Linked DNA regions of Homo sapiens: region 2 is linked to region 1. A link means that fine-mapping ties the variant in region 1 to the expression of a gene that starts in the linked region. Tissue or cell type: thyroid. Region 1 holds a variant in brackets; the other region holds the start of a gene. All regions are shown on one strand. Distances are from middle to middle.

Region 1 (8,083 bases):
GTTGTTTTGGGCAAATCATCCAACTTCTATGGGCCTCAGTTTCAACACCCATAAAATAGGCACAACAATCTCCCTCCCCAAAGATACCCTTCGGTGTTCGTGAGCATAGAGCACGCCAGCTCCTGCTGCACAGAAACCTTTCTGACTCTCTGGAACAACTCGCTCCCCTCGGAAGTGACTCACCTGAACCCGCACCTGCTCTACTACGTTCAACTCCTCTAGCGTCAGTGGATGCTCCGGGTCATTGATGGAGCGAATCAGATGTGGGAAGTGAAGGAAAAGGGACTCTGCGCCCTTGCCCACTTAGAACCCTCTGCCAGGAACGCCCTGCTGGGATGCGGCTCCACCAGCTGCTCGATATCACTGCTCCCCCCACCGCAAGCCCCCGGAACCCGCCCGCGCCCAGCAGCGGCGGATATCGAAGATCTCGCGTGCGTCGATGCTGTCGGGAACCTGCTCGTCCTCCTCGCCTGCCGTCACAGGCCGCTCCCCAGAGCGCTGGTAGATGAGGGGGTTGGCATTCTCCAGGAGGCCGCCGCCGACCCCGCCGCCGCCTACCATCGCGGAACCACCACCGCTGATCCTAGCAGGCGTGCGCTTCCGCTCCAACCCGCGCACTTCCGGAGAACGGGAAGGGGGCGTGGCGTGGCGACGGAGTCGCGCGAGGGACACGCCGCGTTGTGGGTTCTCGGCCTGAGGTGCGAGAGAAGCGGTGACCGCGGCCCTGGCTGCTCGGACCCGGGAACATGATGGTCGCTGGAGCAGAAGGCGCTGAGAAGGGACCACGGCGGCGCTGGGTCGTGCGAGCCAGTAGCGGGCTGAAACGTAGAGGCCAGAACCAGGTCTCAGGGGGCACTAAAGGCGGTCGGAGGTAATCCCCACACCGCTTCCTCCTGGAAGTCAGGCTGGCCGGGAGCTCCCGTATCCAGGACGGTTGGTCGCCTCTGGCCTGGCAGGGATCCTAGTGTCTCGGGACCTCCCGGTGACGCGCCTGCCTCCCCTGCTGCACCATAGGCCCGGGAGTACGGCGTCCCCACAGCTTGGACCGGCAGGGGCTCGTGAAATGTTTGTCAAGTGGATAAATGACCATGGCCGTGGTCTCCGCGGGAGGTGAGGAAACTGAAAGCCACCGAGGAAAAGGGGGGCGCTCCTTAAGAAGTGCCGCGGTCACGTGTACGTTTCAAAAGAATGGCGTGACTGAGTAGGGAGGGGACCGCGGAGACCCTCAGACCCTGGACTGTAAGGAGATGAGGGGCCGTGAAGGGGAACCCAGGAAACTGAGTCCTGAAAGCAAGGAGGAACTTCCAGAATGAAGGGCGCCGACACTCCTTCCTGCCTTTGCTCAAGCGGTTCCTTCACCCCGATCAAGTTCCTTCCCATTTCTCCATCTGGGGGATCCTGAACGTGCACATCCTCAGAGAAGCCCTCCTGGGGTCTCCAATTCTAGTTTATTGCCCCCTCCTATCGATCCCCCAGCGCGCTCATCGGGCCTGTGGACAAGGACAGGTTTGAAGAGAGGATTCCCTGGATCGCGGAAGGGCTGCAGGAATGGCACAGCCCCTTCCGAGGATGCCAAAGGAGCCCGGGCAAAGGAAAGTGGCCGTGCCCGGGCCTGCCTACCACTAGATCCCCACCCACCTATGACTGCTCAGTCCCGCTCTCCTACCACACCCACCTTTCCCGGCCCAAGCCAGCGCACCCCGCTGACTCCCTGCCCAGTCCAAACTCCAAGGCTGGGCAAGGCACTGATCCACTGCTGGACAGACCCGGGGCAGCCTCTGGGTGAACAGCAGCGTGTCCGCCGGCAGCGAACCGAGACCAGCGAGCCGACCATGCGGCTGCACAGACTTCGTGCGCGGCTGAGCGCGGTGGCCTGTGGGCTTCTGCTGCTTCTTGTCCGGGGCCAGGGTGAGGCTCCCTCGGAGGGGCGACAGGGACCGGGCTCAGATCTGCCAAATGCTGCGGAGGCAGAACCTGACAGTGCGGGAGGGCAGGCGCCTGGGAGGTAGGAGCTGGTGGAGATGACAGCGTGGAACTCGTGAGCCCCACGCAACGCCTCCCCGCCGCCCAAGGTGGGCTCCTAGAAGCACAGAAAGGGTCGGGCTGGGGGACACCACGGCAAGGAACCAGCGGAGTACAGGGGCCCCAGGAGCGCCGGGACATGCCAGGCCGGGTAGGCAGCCTGGGGTCGGAGTGGGTGAGGGATTGGGGTGTGGGGATTCAGTCCATTTCCCTCTTATGATTGTGGCTGTAGCGGGTGCTGCCGGCCGGTAATAACAGTAATAGCTTCTGGCAGCATCTGGCTCTCAGTGTGTGGCGTCCTTGGCCAGGGGGGATGCCCTGAGCCCTCCAAAGGGGCCTCAGACAAGGATAGTGGTCCTTGGGGAACAGAAGCCCCCAGGCGCCAAATCCTAAAGCAGATCTAAGAGGCCACAGTGGCTGGGTGCGATTGGCTCACTCCTTTAATCCCACCACTTTAGAAGGCCAAGGGAGAGTATCGCTTGTGCCCAGGAGTTGGAGGCCAGCCTGGACAACATAGTGAGACTCGGAGTGTACAAAAAATTGAAAGAAATTAGTGGGCTGTGGTGGTCTGTGACCTGTAGTCCCAGCTACTTGGGAGGCTGAGGTGGGAGATCACTTTAGTAGGGGAGGTTGAGGCTGCAGTGAGCCTTCATCCCACTACTGCACTCCAGCCTGGGTGAAAAAGCAAAAATCTGTCTCCAGAAACAAGAACCAAAGAGCTCGTGGTGTCCCTCATGCCATTTACCTCATCCTGGGCAAGGGCACAACTTGGCTTCCAGGGCAAAGGTGAAGGCTCTGTGTGCCTGCCAGGCTTCTCCAGGCCCTTATCAGAAGCTGGGGGAGTGTTTCGGCCTTTGGTCCTCTCACCCGAAACTCTCCTAAGTGTATGATCTGTCTCTTCCAACCCTTCCCCAATTTAATTTGCGCAGGTGGAGTCCATACTCCCCCCGCCCCATGGTGCACTGCTGCAGGGCTTCCTCCCGTGCCTGCCCTTGACCACATTCTAGAGTTCACCAGGAGCCCAGCAGGAAGATCTGCCTGGCCTCACAGATGGCTACCTTTTAAAATATTTTGGGCCAGGCACAGTGGCTCACACCTGTTATCCCAGCACTTTGAGAGGCAGAGATGGGAGGATCACTTGAGGCTAGGAGTTAGAGACCAGCTTGGGCAACAAGACTTGTCTCTACCAAAAAAAAAAAAAAAAAAAGTCAAGCATGGTGGCAGACAGCTGTACTCCAAGCTACTCAGGAGGCTGTGGCGGGAGGATCTCAAGCCCAGGAGGTGGAGGCTGCAGTGAGCTGTTATCATATTACTGCATTCCAGCCTGGGCAACAGATGGCGACCTTGTCTGACAAATATATATGTATACAAAATTTTGGGTTGGACCCACATTCAGAAAAAATAATTGACAAGCCATAGGAGGGTACAGGTGATGTGTGCCATCCTCTTTTTACCCAACCAGTCCTGGCTTCTCCTCAGGGGCCATCAAAGTCCCCATGGCCCACACTGGAAACTGCTTGTTGACACCGCAGTACACACAGTGCCCAGCAGTTTACACAAGAATAGATGTGTGCACTTGTCCTTGATTTTCATCTAAACAGTCATAAACTCACCCACTTTCTGGAGCCAGGCTTTTCTACAGCTGGGACTACAGGCATGCACCACCACACCCCGCCAATTTATTTCCTGATTTTTTTGCAGAGACAGAGTCCCACTATGGTCCCCAGGCCAGTCACTGTGCTTTTTATATCCCAGCCACAGCCATACTTTTCTCTTGCACCTCTTTTCACCAACATCACTCATGGTTTGGATGATGCTTTCTTTACATGATTTCTTGCCACTTTGGACATGACATCCCTGAGGACAAGAAACTTGCCTGCCCAATTCCCACCATCATCCTACTGTCACATGACCTGGCACACAGTTGAAGGACACTCTAGTCCCATCAAGGGCATGTGACCCTTTGTTTGAAGGTCCTAGGGCTGAATGATGATGCCTGGCCCCAAGGAGCCTCAGCCTGGTGGGATGGAGACAGGCCCAGGAAGCCAGAGCGGGAAGGGAGTGTTACAGGCAGGAAGTTTGTAAAGCCCATGTTTACAGATCAGAGTCCCTTGAGCTAAGATGAGGATGGCAAGGAAGCAGCAATACCAACAGTTGGGAGGGCAGTCGATTGGTCAAACCCAACCGTGATGTCTGTCTCTCTGCCCACAGGCCAGGACTCAGCCAGTCCCATCCGGACCACACACACGGGGCAGGTGCTGGGGAGTCTTGTCCATGTGAAGGGCGCCAATGCCGGGGTCCAAACCTTCCTGGGAATTCCATTTGCCAAGCCACCTCTAGGTCCGCTGCGATTTGCACCCCCTGAGCCCCCTGAATCTTGGAGTGGTGTGAGGGATGGAACCACCCATCCGGCCATGTAAGCTCTCCAAGGGGTCCAGGGAACTCCAGGCCCTGGGGCAGGGGTGGGGGTGCTCTGAGCTCAGCTAGGCTGCAGTTATCATTTCATCTAAACCCCCACAGCCAGTTTTCCTTCTGAGTTTCGTGGATTCCCACGTGCATTTTTCCAATGAGCATGCTGAGGCTCAGGAGGGCAGAATAACTTCTCAGACTCCTGGATCAGGGCTTGGCATTCAGAAGACATTGGCTCCAGGTGCCGAAGGGAGGGGCAGACACACGTATCTCCCCAGATTCTGGTTATGCCAAGCTTTCTCTGCCACCAGTGGCAGGTGTCTCTGGGAAAGGTTCGGGTTGGCTCTATGAACCTTGTAGGAGCCCCTAACTCTAGTGGCAGATGTTGCAAATACCTGAAGAGAACAG[T/C]AGTGGTAGCTTTCTGGGGACCTGCACTCTCCACAGGCACTGTGTCCACTGACAGGACCAGGAGCCATTGGCCAAGAGACATGTATATGTATATGTATATGTTTCCAACTGGAGGCCATGTAGGAATGATGAGTTTTTGAGAGTTTAGACTTGGGATGAGAGACATCCCACTGCCCTTCTCATGAGAAATTAACATCCATTCACTCATGTAGCACACATATGTGGGCTACTCCCCTGTCCCAGGCCTTACGGGTTACAGGAATATAGTGGTGAATGTCAACACATGCAGCCAATGGTTCTCATAGAAACCCCTAAGAGTCAAGGTTTCCGGCAGTGCGAGGAATGATACCCAAGGTCCTCAGTAACCTCGAGGCCTCCCTGGAAGTCCAAGCTGCATCCCAGCTTCCCCAGAGCCTGTGGCCTGTAACTTGGTGGGAAGGGATTTTTGAGAGGGATCATGTGTGAGCAGGATATTGTGGGAAGGGTCTGAGGGTGGCTGGGAGCACCTCTGAACCCAGGGTCTGGTTTTGGCCACAGCCTGGCCCCTGGACTGATTATTTGCCCTGGTTACCAGGTGTCTACAGGACCTCACCGCAGTGGAGTCAGAGTTTCTTAGCCAGTTCAACATGACCTTCCCTTCCGACTCCATGTCTGAGGACTGCCTGTACCTCAGCATCTACACGCCGGCCCATAGCCATGAAGGCTCTAACCTGCCGGTGGGTGTCAGGCCACAGTTCACTGGGGGTTGGAGGACAGTTCTTCTGCAAGAAGCTGAAAAGGACAATATTAGCTCAGGCCCTGCTTCAGAGTGGACCATGCTGAGAAGCTTCTCACTGTCAGGTCCAAGAAATGCTCCTTACCCAGACTGGGCAGCTGGCCCCTGGACATGGGGTCACAGAGTTCTGGCTGCTCCCAGAGGTCAAAGGCTGTGGCTCTGGGCTGGACCCAGGACTCACTCAGCCAACTCATGCCAGGAGATCCACTTAAGTGCCAAAGGGCTGCACCTTGAGGTGACCAAGAACCCCAGCCATGGATAATCTGTTGGGCCTATAGAATGGGCACACACAAAAACTTTTTTTCTTAGAGATGGCATCATGCTCTGTTGCCCAGGCTAAAATGCAGTGGCATGAACATACCTCTCTGTAACCTCGAAATCCGGGATGATCCTCTCAGATTAGCCTCCCGAGTAGCTGGGACTACTGGCCTATTCCACCATGCCTGGCTCATTTTTAAAACATTTTCTGTTGAAACGGGGTCTCACTATGTGGTTCAGGCTAAGGACATTTTTGGTTAATGTTCATGTGGAGCCATCAGGGAGACACCCCTTTTCTTTCCACTTTGGTGAATTATCTGGGGTTAATGAACCCAGGCTTTGATACAGGGGGTTCGATTGCAAAGATTGGGAGGCCTGGTCTTCCTGATAGATCTTGGGTGCCTAACCATTTGCCCATGTAATGAATTTGTGCTGGAGATCTAATGGGGAGGTAGACAGAGGCAAAGCACTGGTTGGTCTAGGTAGTGGCCCTGGTGGGGTTTGGGCTGGGTGGGAGCATCATGGTAGCTGCCTTGATTTCCCCAGGTGATGGTGTGGATCCACGGTGGTGCGCTTGTTTTTGGCATGGCTTCCTTGTATGATGGTTCCATGCTGGCTGCCTTGGAGAACGTGGTGGTGGTCATCATCCAGTACCGCCTGGGTGTCCTGGGCTTCTTCAGGTGAGACTAGGGCTGGGCTGGGCAACCCGGGCTGAGCGGGGCCAGGACAGCCCTGTGATCCCTGTCCCTGCTACTTCTCAGCACTGGAGACAAGCACGCAACCGGCAACTGGGGCTACCTGGACCAAGTGGCTGCACTACGCTGGGTCCAGCAGAATATCGCCCACTTTGGAGGCAACCCTGACCGTGTCACCATTTTTGGCGAGTCTGCGGGTGGCACGAGTGTGTCTTCGCTTGTTGTGTCCCCCATATCCCAAGGACTCTTCCACGGAGCCATCATGGAGAGTGGCGTGGCCCTCCTGCCCGGCCTCATTGCCAGCTCAGCTGATGTCATCTCCACGGTGAGTGCCCTCAGCTGAAGAGGCCTAGGCCTGCTCCCTCCCCTCATATCCCTCAGAGCCTCTGTCTGTTAAACGGGGATGACAAGGGCCATCGGGAGCATGCTCCAGGAGCTGCTGCCTACCGTGGAATTGCTGGGGGGCTCCAGGGTCAGAATTCACATCCTTCTGCCATTGCAGAGGCCGAGCTTGTTCTGTGGCTCCTGTGCAAAGTTGTCACCCTAGGGATCCCCACCATGAGGAGAATCATCTAGGCGGATGGGATGGCCCCTGTGTCTGGGACTTCTGAGTTGGAACAGTGTCAGAACTGCAGGAACTCATACGAAGTACCCTCTGAGATTTGGGGTACCCCTGTTCTTGGCCAGGGCCTTGGGCAAACTCCTCTCCTCTACCTGGAAGGATGAGCCAGCCCCTGCCTGGTCCCTTTACAGGTGGTGGCCAACCTGTCTGCCTGTGACCAAGTTGACTCTGAGGCCCTGGTGGGCTGCCTGCGGGGCAAGAGTAAAGAGGAGATTCTTGCAATTAACAAGGTTGGTCTAAATGGATGTGGGTGTAGAGGAAGGGGTGCAATAGGCATGGGGCTGGCAGGCCTGCACGGCCGTCATATTCCCTGGGCACATTACCTCATCTGCATGCCTGAGTGTCATAGCCCTGGGTCGGGACTGAAGGTCGGTGCATGCTGAGCCAAACAGTAATCTCCTGGGGTGGGTATGAGCATCCAGGGATAAACTGGGAAGGAGTGGAAGGTACTCAGAGGGCATCGGAAGATGTCTGGGACCTGACCTTGTTCCCTGACCTTACATTTCCCCTCAGCCTTTCAAGATGATCCCCGGAGTGGTGGATGGGGTCTTCCTGCCCAGGCACCCCCAGGAGCTGCTGGCCTCTGCCGACTTTCAGCCTGTCCCTAGCATTGTTGGTGTCAACAACAATGAATTCGGCTGGCTCATCCCCAAGGTGAGCCCCAACCCAAGCCCACAAGTGCCTGGGGAGCCCATCTGGTAGTGGGGGGTGTTCAGGGCTTCATAGCTCCAGGCTCATCCCATCCCCAGCTACAGACTCTCTCCTGGCCATCCAGGTCATGAGGATCTATGATACCCAGAAGGAAATGGACAGAGAGGCCTCCCAGGCTGCTCTGCAGAAAATGTTAACGCTGCTGGTAAGGCTCCTGGGGTCCCTCGCCAATGGAGACGGGCT
Region 2 (8,102 bases), 390 kb after region 1:
TCAACTGACAGATGAGTAAACAAAATGTAGTATATCCACACAATGGAATATTGTTTGTCAATACGAAGGAATGGGATGAACATGGTGGCTTGTGCTTGTAATCCCAGCACTTTGGAAGGCTGAGGCAGGAGATTCACTTGAGCCCAGGAGTTTGAGGCTGCAGTGAGCTGTGATCGTGCCATTGCACTCCAGCCTGGGCGTCAGAGTGAGGCACGTCTCTAAAAAAATAAAAAATAAAAAGGAATGAAGTACTGATACATGATAACAACATGGATGAAATTCGAAACATTATGCCAAGGGAAAGAAGCCAAACAAAAAATCACATATGATTCCATCCACATGCAATGTGTGGACAAGGCAAATTTCTAGAGATAGAAAATAGATTAGTGGTTGCCTAGGGCTGGAGAGGCTATGGGGAGATGGGGTGTGACTACTAATGAGTATGGGATTTCTTTTGGGGATGGTGAAAATGTTCTAAAATTGATTGTGATGATAGTTGCACAACTCTGAACATACTAAAACTCACTGAATTGTACACATTAAAATGTGTGAATTGTATGGTATGTGAATTATATCTCAATAGATCTACAAAAAAAAAAAAAGATGAGGTACTGTCCATTCCATGGAGCGCATGCAGAACTCTCTTGGGATCTTACCTGCAGAGACATTACATTACTGGAGGATGAATGCTATAGATACCTTTTCATATATACAAAGGCAGCAAAGATCACTAACCTTCCTCAGCTCATTGTTAAAAGTTTAAGGTCATCTGTATATCTGTTGGACAAGAGGTTGTTGAAAAAAAAGTTTAAGGTCATCTGTACATCTGTTGGACAAGAGGTTGTTGAAAAAAAAGTTTAAGGTCATCTATTTATAAGTGAATTGTCTTCTTTGTTTCAAGATGACCTAGTTTATCAATACGATGGAAAAGTAGAGAGCCATCAAACATACAAACCATCCATATCAAATTTTAAAATAAAGGGCACTACCCTTGTAAAAATATTTTTTAAAGGGTAGTAAATAGTATATAGAATTTTACCTAAAAAGAACCATAAAACAATATCGAATTCTAATTAAAAATTATGCAGGCTGAAGTGATTGGACTGCAATGTACTGATATCTGCAATTTATTTTGAGATGAATTTAAAAAAGACAGATTGATGGACAGATAGGATTGCTAGATGGACATGTGATAAAACAAATATGAGCAAAATGTTGATTGTAGAATGCAGGTGGTGGATATATGGTGCTCACTGTACAATTCTTTCAATCTTTCTGTGTTTATAAAATTGCATTAAGACGTTCGTGGGGGAAAAACAGTGTTAAAGTAAGAGGTGATTACTTAAGAAAGGAAAAGCTCCCTGCTCCAGAAAGAACCTGCATTTCCCATTCTGACAGCTGAGGAAGGAAAATAAATGCATGCAAGAAAGAATGGGATGGGGTCCATCTCTCCCACAGCAATATTCAGACATAAAGAAGAGCAATTATATATGCCACATTTGAGACTAGAAGAGTTAAAGGGGGTAATAAGAGAAATATGACAAATTGTGAAATGATTGCATAACTGACAGAAGCAGAGCCAGAAAAGTCAATCTAATGAGCTAACCTAGAATTCTAAGTCCCAGCCCTTCTAAAAGCCTTTCTACAAGTTCATGTTCAGGCAAAGGCTGAATGTAACAAATGGAGTGACTAAGGGTCTCACATAGACCAGAAAGCATAAATATGCAAGGAAGGACCCTTGATTCTGCTTTCTGTTCTCCTTAAAGGTGGCTGAGAGCTCAATGGGGGTGCTCAGAGTGTGCAGATGTTGGATGCCAAAGAAAACCTACTTCTCGAAGGTGAGCCCCAGTTCTGGTCTCAGTTCCTCTTTTCTTTCTTTCTTTTTTTTCTTTTTTTCTTTTTTTCTTTTTTTTTTTTTTTGAGACGGAGTCTCGCTCTCTAGCCCAGGCTGGAGTGCAGTGGCACGATTTTGGCTCACTGCAAGCTCCACCTCCCGGGTTTACGCCATTCTCCTGCCTCAGCCTCCAGCCTCCTCAAGTAGCTGGGACTACAGGCGCCCGCCACCACGCCCGGCTTTATTTTATTTTATTTTATTTTATTTTGTTTTATTTTTGTATTTTTAGTAGAGATGGGGTTTCACTGTGTTAGCCAGGATGGTCTCGATCTCCTGACCTCGTGATCCACATGCTTCGGCCTCCCAAAGTGCTGGGATTACAGACGTGAGCCACCACGCCCAGCCCACCCTCTTTTCTTGTTAAGGATAGGGTGTGACAAGAGGGTCCTGGCTCCTTCTTACATACATGTCCCATCCACAGGTGGGCTCTTAAGTGCCTGCTGGAGTGAGGGTAGGGGTTAGGGATGCGGCTGTTCTTTCCCAAAGACTACTCAGGGGCTGGTTAGTGCAGAGCTATCGCAGCCTGGCGACAGCCCTCAGTCACAGGCAAGCTTAGGGGAACCTGTGGTGCTTGAAAGACAAAAGGCTTCTTGCCGGACTGACTTCAGGAAACGGGGTAGCCCTAAAGCAGTCATCCCCACCCCATTACAAAGAGCTTCTCTCTTTCCCACGCTGATCCTTCTCCCCCGAAGAAGCTCCGTCCAAGTAAATTTCTTACCTTTTTTTTTTTTTTTTTTTTGAGACAAGGTCTGGCTCTGTCACTCAGGTCGCCCAGGCTGGAGTGCAGTGGTGCAATCTCGGTTCACTGCAACCTCCACCTCCCGGGTTCAAGCGATTCTCCTGCCTCAGCCTCCCGAGTAGCTGGGACTACAGGCCGTGCCACCACACCCGGCTAATTTTTGTATTTTTAGTAGAGATGGGGTTTCACCATGTTGGCCAGGCTGGTCTTGAACTCTTGACCTCAGGTGATCCGCCCACCTCGGGCTCCCAAAGTGCTGGGATTACAGGCGTGAGACACCGCGCCCAGCCCGTCCAAGTCAATTTCTAGAGCTAGAACTTCCTCATGCTCTAAAGACAGGACCCCAACTCCTCAGAGCCAGGATTCCCAACCTTTCAGATCTGGAGCTCCCCATCATGCCTTAGAGTTCTGTCCCCACGCTCCAATCCTTCAGATTTGGATCTCCCCTTCACACACACCCTCGCCTTGCCCCAAAGTCAGCATCCCCCAGCGCTGAGATATGAAGACCACCCCGTCAAAGGGGCACACGCCCAGCCCTCAGAACCGGAGTCCCCCACATCCTCAGAGCCAGAACACTTCATCCCTCAAGACAGAGCGTTATTCTAACTCCTCAGAGCCAGCCCCCCAAATCCTTCCCGGCTGGGGGCCCCTCGCTCTCTCCCATGCCCCAGAGCCAGGTCTCGAACCACTTAGCCCCAATCCTTGGCCACAGCGGCCCCCATTCGCCGCTTTGGTGCTTTTGGCGCCCCCGCCAGAGCGGGCTCCGTACCATGGTCGCGGCTCCAGCAGCGGGCGGGCGGGCTTGTGACCCGGCCAATAACGGTTCCCGGGGTCGCGGCGGCGCGCGCGCGGGGGGCGGGGCAGTGGGCGGGGCCTGGCGTGCGCCGGGTGGTCTCGCGGGCGGTGGCAGGTGAGCGGCGGGCGGGGATGGCGGAGCAATGGGAGCTGGACGAGGAAGGCATTCGCCGCCTGGGGGCGCTGACGCTGGAGCAGCCGGGTAGGGTCTGGCCGGGAGGGTGTGGACTGGGAACGTAGGGTCAGAAGCTGTGGAAAGAAAACTGAAGTGGAAGGCGGGGAACCTGAGATAGAGGCGAGGGAACCACAGAGAAGCGGTACCTGAGGCTGGGGGGCGGGGGGATAACTTGAGGCAGAAGGTTAGAGGGAGGTGGAGGTGGAGGAACTGAAGTAACGGGAGGGTGTGGGGCAGAGCCCGAGGAATTGAGAGAGAAGAGGGGAGTGTGAAGTAGGGAAGGAGAAACAAGGTTAACAGGGGACCCTGCCGCAGGTGACAGAACTGCGGGGGGCGGTGGCTGACCGCTGTAATCCCAGCACTTTGGGAGGCGGAGGCGGGTGGATCACCTGAGCGTGGCCAACATGGTGAAACCCCGTCTCTACTAAAATACAAAAATTAGCCCGGCGTGGTGGTTCAAGTCTATAATCCCAGCTACTCGGGAGGCTGAGGCAGGAGAATCGCTTGAACCCGGGAGGCGGAGGTTGCAGTTAGCCGAGATCGCACCACTGCACTGCAGCCTGGGCGACAGAGCGAGACTCCATCTCAAAAATAATAATAATAAATAAAATAAATAAATAATAAAATGTCTATTAGACATCCAAGTGTAAGGTACCTAGTAGGCAGTTGGATATATGGGTCTGGACCTCAGAGGAGAGGTCAGGGTTAGAGATGAAAATTTTGGAGACATTAGCAATAGGTGGTATTTAAAGCTACGGGAGTGGATGAACTCAGCTAAGGAGAGAATGTCGATGGAGAAGTGAAAGAAAGCTTAAGACTCAACCTTGGAATATTTCAGTGTTTAGAGGTTGTATAGAGGAAGAATGTGGTATCTTGGAATTTGAGAAGGGGTAGTGTATCGAGCAAGCAATGGCCAACTGTGCCAAATGCTATTGACAGGCTGAGCAACTTAAATGCAGAGTGTCTGTTAGATTTAGCAACATGGAACTTACTGGTGACCTTGACAGAGGGAGTTTTGGGAGGGTGGGGAGGAGGGAAACCAGATTGGAGTGGGATGAAAAAGGGAAATGATATTTGAGGGGAAGAGACAGTGAAAGTAAGAACTTTTGCTGAAAATTTTAGCTGTAAAAGAGACTGCAGAAATAGATGGTAGCTGAAGCGTATGATGTGCAGTCAAGAACAGAACAGGAAGGATATACTAGAGCATGTCGGTAGTCTAATGATTAATTTGGTAGAGGGGGGAAATATGTAATATTTACTCATTTTGACTGTTAAAATAATTCAATTAATTTATTCTGTGGGTAATATAATAATTGTACAGTGAGGGCCAGGCGCGGTGGCTCACGACTGTAATCCCAGCACTCTGGGAGGCCGAGGCGGGCGGATCACGAGTCAGGAGATCGAGACCATCCTGGCTAACACAGTGAAACCCCGTCTCTACTAAAAATACAAAAAAAATTAGCGGAGCATGGTGGCGGGCGCCTGTAGTCCCAGCTACTCGGGAGGCTGAGGCAGGAGAATGGCGTGAACCCAGGAGGCGGAGCTTGCAGTGAGCCGAGATCGCGCCACTGCACTCCAGCCTGGGTGACAGAGTGAGACTCCGTCTCGAAAAAATAAATAAATAAAATAAAAATTGTACAGTGAGAAGAAAGTCTTTACTCCCCCATCCCCGTCTCATAGGCCTAGTTCCCCTTCCTAAAGGCAATTACTGTTACCAGTATCTTGGATAGTTTTCCAGAAATATTCTCTACATATATAAGCATTTATCACTTATTTTATAATTTTATATTATGGCAATTTTCAAATATATACAAGAGTAGAGATAACAGAATAATGAACTCTATTAGCCTACCTCAACAGTTATCATCAATTCATGGCCAAGCTTCTTTCACGTATACCTCACCTATCCTCCACCCACCTCCAACCCCCTACACTGACTATTTTGAAGCAAATTCCAAGTATGTGATTTCCTCCATAAATATTTCAGTAGTATTTTATTTATTTATTGTTTTTATTATTTTTCAGATAGAGTTTTGCTCTGTCACCCAGGCTCTAGGGCAGTGGCGTGATCTCGGCTCACTGTAATCTCCACCTCCGCATTTCAAGCGATTCTTCTGCCTCAGCCTCCCAAGTAGCTGGGACTACAGGCACCCGCCACCACGCCCGGCTAATTTTGTATTTTCAGTAGTGACAGGGTTTTGCCATGTTGGCCAAGCTGGTCTTGAACTCCTGACCTCAAGTGATCCACCCACCTCAGCCTCCCTAAGAGTTGGGATTATAAGTGCAAGCCACAGCACCTGGCCAGTATGTATTTTTAAAAGCTAAGATTACTTTAAAAAAAAGTCACATATGCAACCTAAAAAATTTAACAGTAATTTCTTTTTTTGGTTTTGTTTTGTTTTTGAGATGGAGTCTGGCTCTGTTGCCCAGGCTGGAGTGCAGTGGCATGATCTCAGCTCACTGCAACCTCTGCCTCCAGGGTTCAAGCAATTCTCCTGCCTCAGCTTCCTGAGTAGCTGGGATTTCAGGCATGTGCCACCATGCCTGGCTAATTTTTTTGTATTTTTAGTAGAGACGGGGTTTCACCATGCTAGCCAGGCTAGTCTTGAACTCCTGACCTCAAGTGACTCAGCCTCCTAAAGTGAACAGTGATTTCTTGATATCATGAAATATCTAACTAGTGTTCTTATTTCCCCAGTTGTCCTATAATTTTTTAAAATTAGAATCCATGGCCGGGTGCGTTGGCTCATGCCTGTAATCCCAGCACTTTGGGAGGCCAAGGTGGGTGGATCACTTGAGGCCAGGAGTTCAAGACCAGCCAGGCCAACATGGTGAAACCCCATCTCTATTAAAAATACAAAAATTAGCTGGACATGGTGGCTCACACCTGTAATCCCAACTACTTGGGAGGCTGAGGCAGGAGAATCGCTTGAACCCGGGAGACGGAGGTTGTAGTGAGCTGAGATCGCGTCACTGCACTCCAGCTTGGGTGGCAGAGCAAGTCTCCATCTAAAAAATAAAATAAAATAAGAATCCGTATATGGTCCATATATTGCAATTGGTTGATGTATGTCTTAAGTCTTATTTGATCTGTAGGCTCCCCATTTTTTTTCCCTCGCATTTTCAATTGTTTTTGAAGAAACTGGCTTTGAAAGAGTTTACTATAACCTGAACTTTGCTCATTGCATTCCTAAGATGTTAAACATTTTCCCGTGTTCCCTGTACTTCCTATGAATTGGTAGTTAGATGAGGCTTAATCAGATTCAGGTTGGATTTTTTTTTTTTCACAAGACGATTTCATAGGTAATGGTGTATGTTTATGTTAGGAAGTATATGGTGCCTAGTGTTCTTTCTTTTCGTGATATCAGCCACTGAATATGATTACCTAAGTTAATTCATTAGGGATTGCAAAATGGTAATTGTCTATTTCTTTCATTTTTCTTCATTAACTGTAATACTTCTATAAAGAGAAATTTCCTCACATCAACTGTTTGCTTATCCTGAGGTACAGTTTGTATAGGAAAGGCAGCATAAAAGCTTGATTTGTTTTCACCTTATATGCCAGCTTTCAGAATGATGAGTTATTTTCTTAGCATTCTCCAAAGGTGACCAGTGAGGACTGTTTTGCTTTCTCAGTATCATTATAAACTCATCGATTTAAATATATGTCTTAGGGCTGGGCATGGTCGTTCACGCCTGTAATCCCAGCATTTTGGGAGGCCAAGGAGGATGGATCACCTGAGGTCAGGAGTTCAAGACCAGTCTGTCCAACATGGTGAAACCTCATCTGTACTAAAAATACAAAAAAAATTAGCCCGGCATGGTGGCAGGTGCCTATAATCCCAGCTACTCAGGAGGCTGAGGCAGGAGAATCACTTGAGCCTGGGAAGCAGAGGTTGCAGTGAACTGAGATCGCACCACTGCACTTCAGCCTGGACGAAAGACTGAGACTCAGTCTAAATAAATAAATAAATAAATAAATGTCTTAGTCCCTTTTCTCTTGTCATAACAGAATACCATAGACTAGGTAATTTATAAAGAACAGAAGTTGATTTGGCTCATGGTTCTGGAGGCTGAGAAGTCCAAGAGCATGGTGCCAACATCTGGTGAGGGTCATTCCATGGTGGAAGGGCAGAAGGTGCATGTGTGAGATGTGAGAGAGAAAGAGAGAGAGAGAGAGAGAGAGAGAGAGAGAGAGAGAGAGAGAGAAGACTGAACTAATTCCTTTATTAGGATAGCTAACTCCCGTGATAACTAACTCCATGATAACAGCATGAAGCCACCGTTGACCTAATCACCTCTTAGAGGCCCCACCTCGCAGTGCTGTTACATTGGCAATTACGTTTCAACATGAAAGCTGGGCATGGCGGCTTACACACTTTGGAAGGCCAGGGAGGAGGATGAGGCCAGGTATTTGAGACCAGCCTGGGCAACACAGCAAGATCCTGTCTCTACAAAAAATTTAAAAATTAACTGGGTGTTGGTGGTGTGTACCTGTA

The links. PIP is the estimated chance that this variant, and not a neighbour inherited with it, causes the effect.
Region 2: LRRC36 starts here. The variant in region 1 is fine-mapped to the expression of LRRC36 in thyroid (GTEx, PIP 0.96).

The regions. Positions count from the first base shown.
Region 1 is chr16:66,933,804-66,941,886 of GRCh38, forward strand. It overlaps CIAO2B (cytosolic iron-sulfur assembly component 2B), which reads right to left and starts at 599. Exons shown (of 5, transcript NM_016062.4): 1 at 420-599; 2 at 184-263. The coding sequence starts at 561. It overlaps CES2 (carboxylesterase 2), which reads left to right and starts at 1,713. Exons shown (of 12, transcript NM_001365405.1): 1 at 1,713-1,908; 2 at 4,234-4,438; 3 at 5,414-5,555; 4 at 6,419-6,552; 5 at 6,634-6,892; 6 at 7,321-7,419; 7 at 7,703-7,843; 8 at 7,965-8,045. The coding sequence starts at 1,833. RefSeq lists enhancers at 205-254, 285-484, 1,323-1,935, 6,755-7,254, 7,314-8,083. The variant T/C (reference allele first, on the strand shown) is at 4,840.
Region 2 is chr16:67,323,303-67,331,404 of GRCh38, forward strand. It overlaps LRRC36 (leucine rich repeat containing 36), which reads left to right and starts at 3,513. Exons shown (of 14, transcript NM_018296.6): 1 at 3,513-3,630. The coding sequence starts at 3,561. It overlaps KCTD19 (potassium channel tetramerization domain containing 19), which reads right to left and starts at 3,439. Exons shown (of 16, transcript NM_001100915.3): 1 at 3,403-3,439. The coding sequence starts at 3,405. RefSeq lists an enhancer at 1,571-1,650 and a silencer at 3,406-3,555.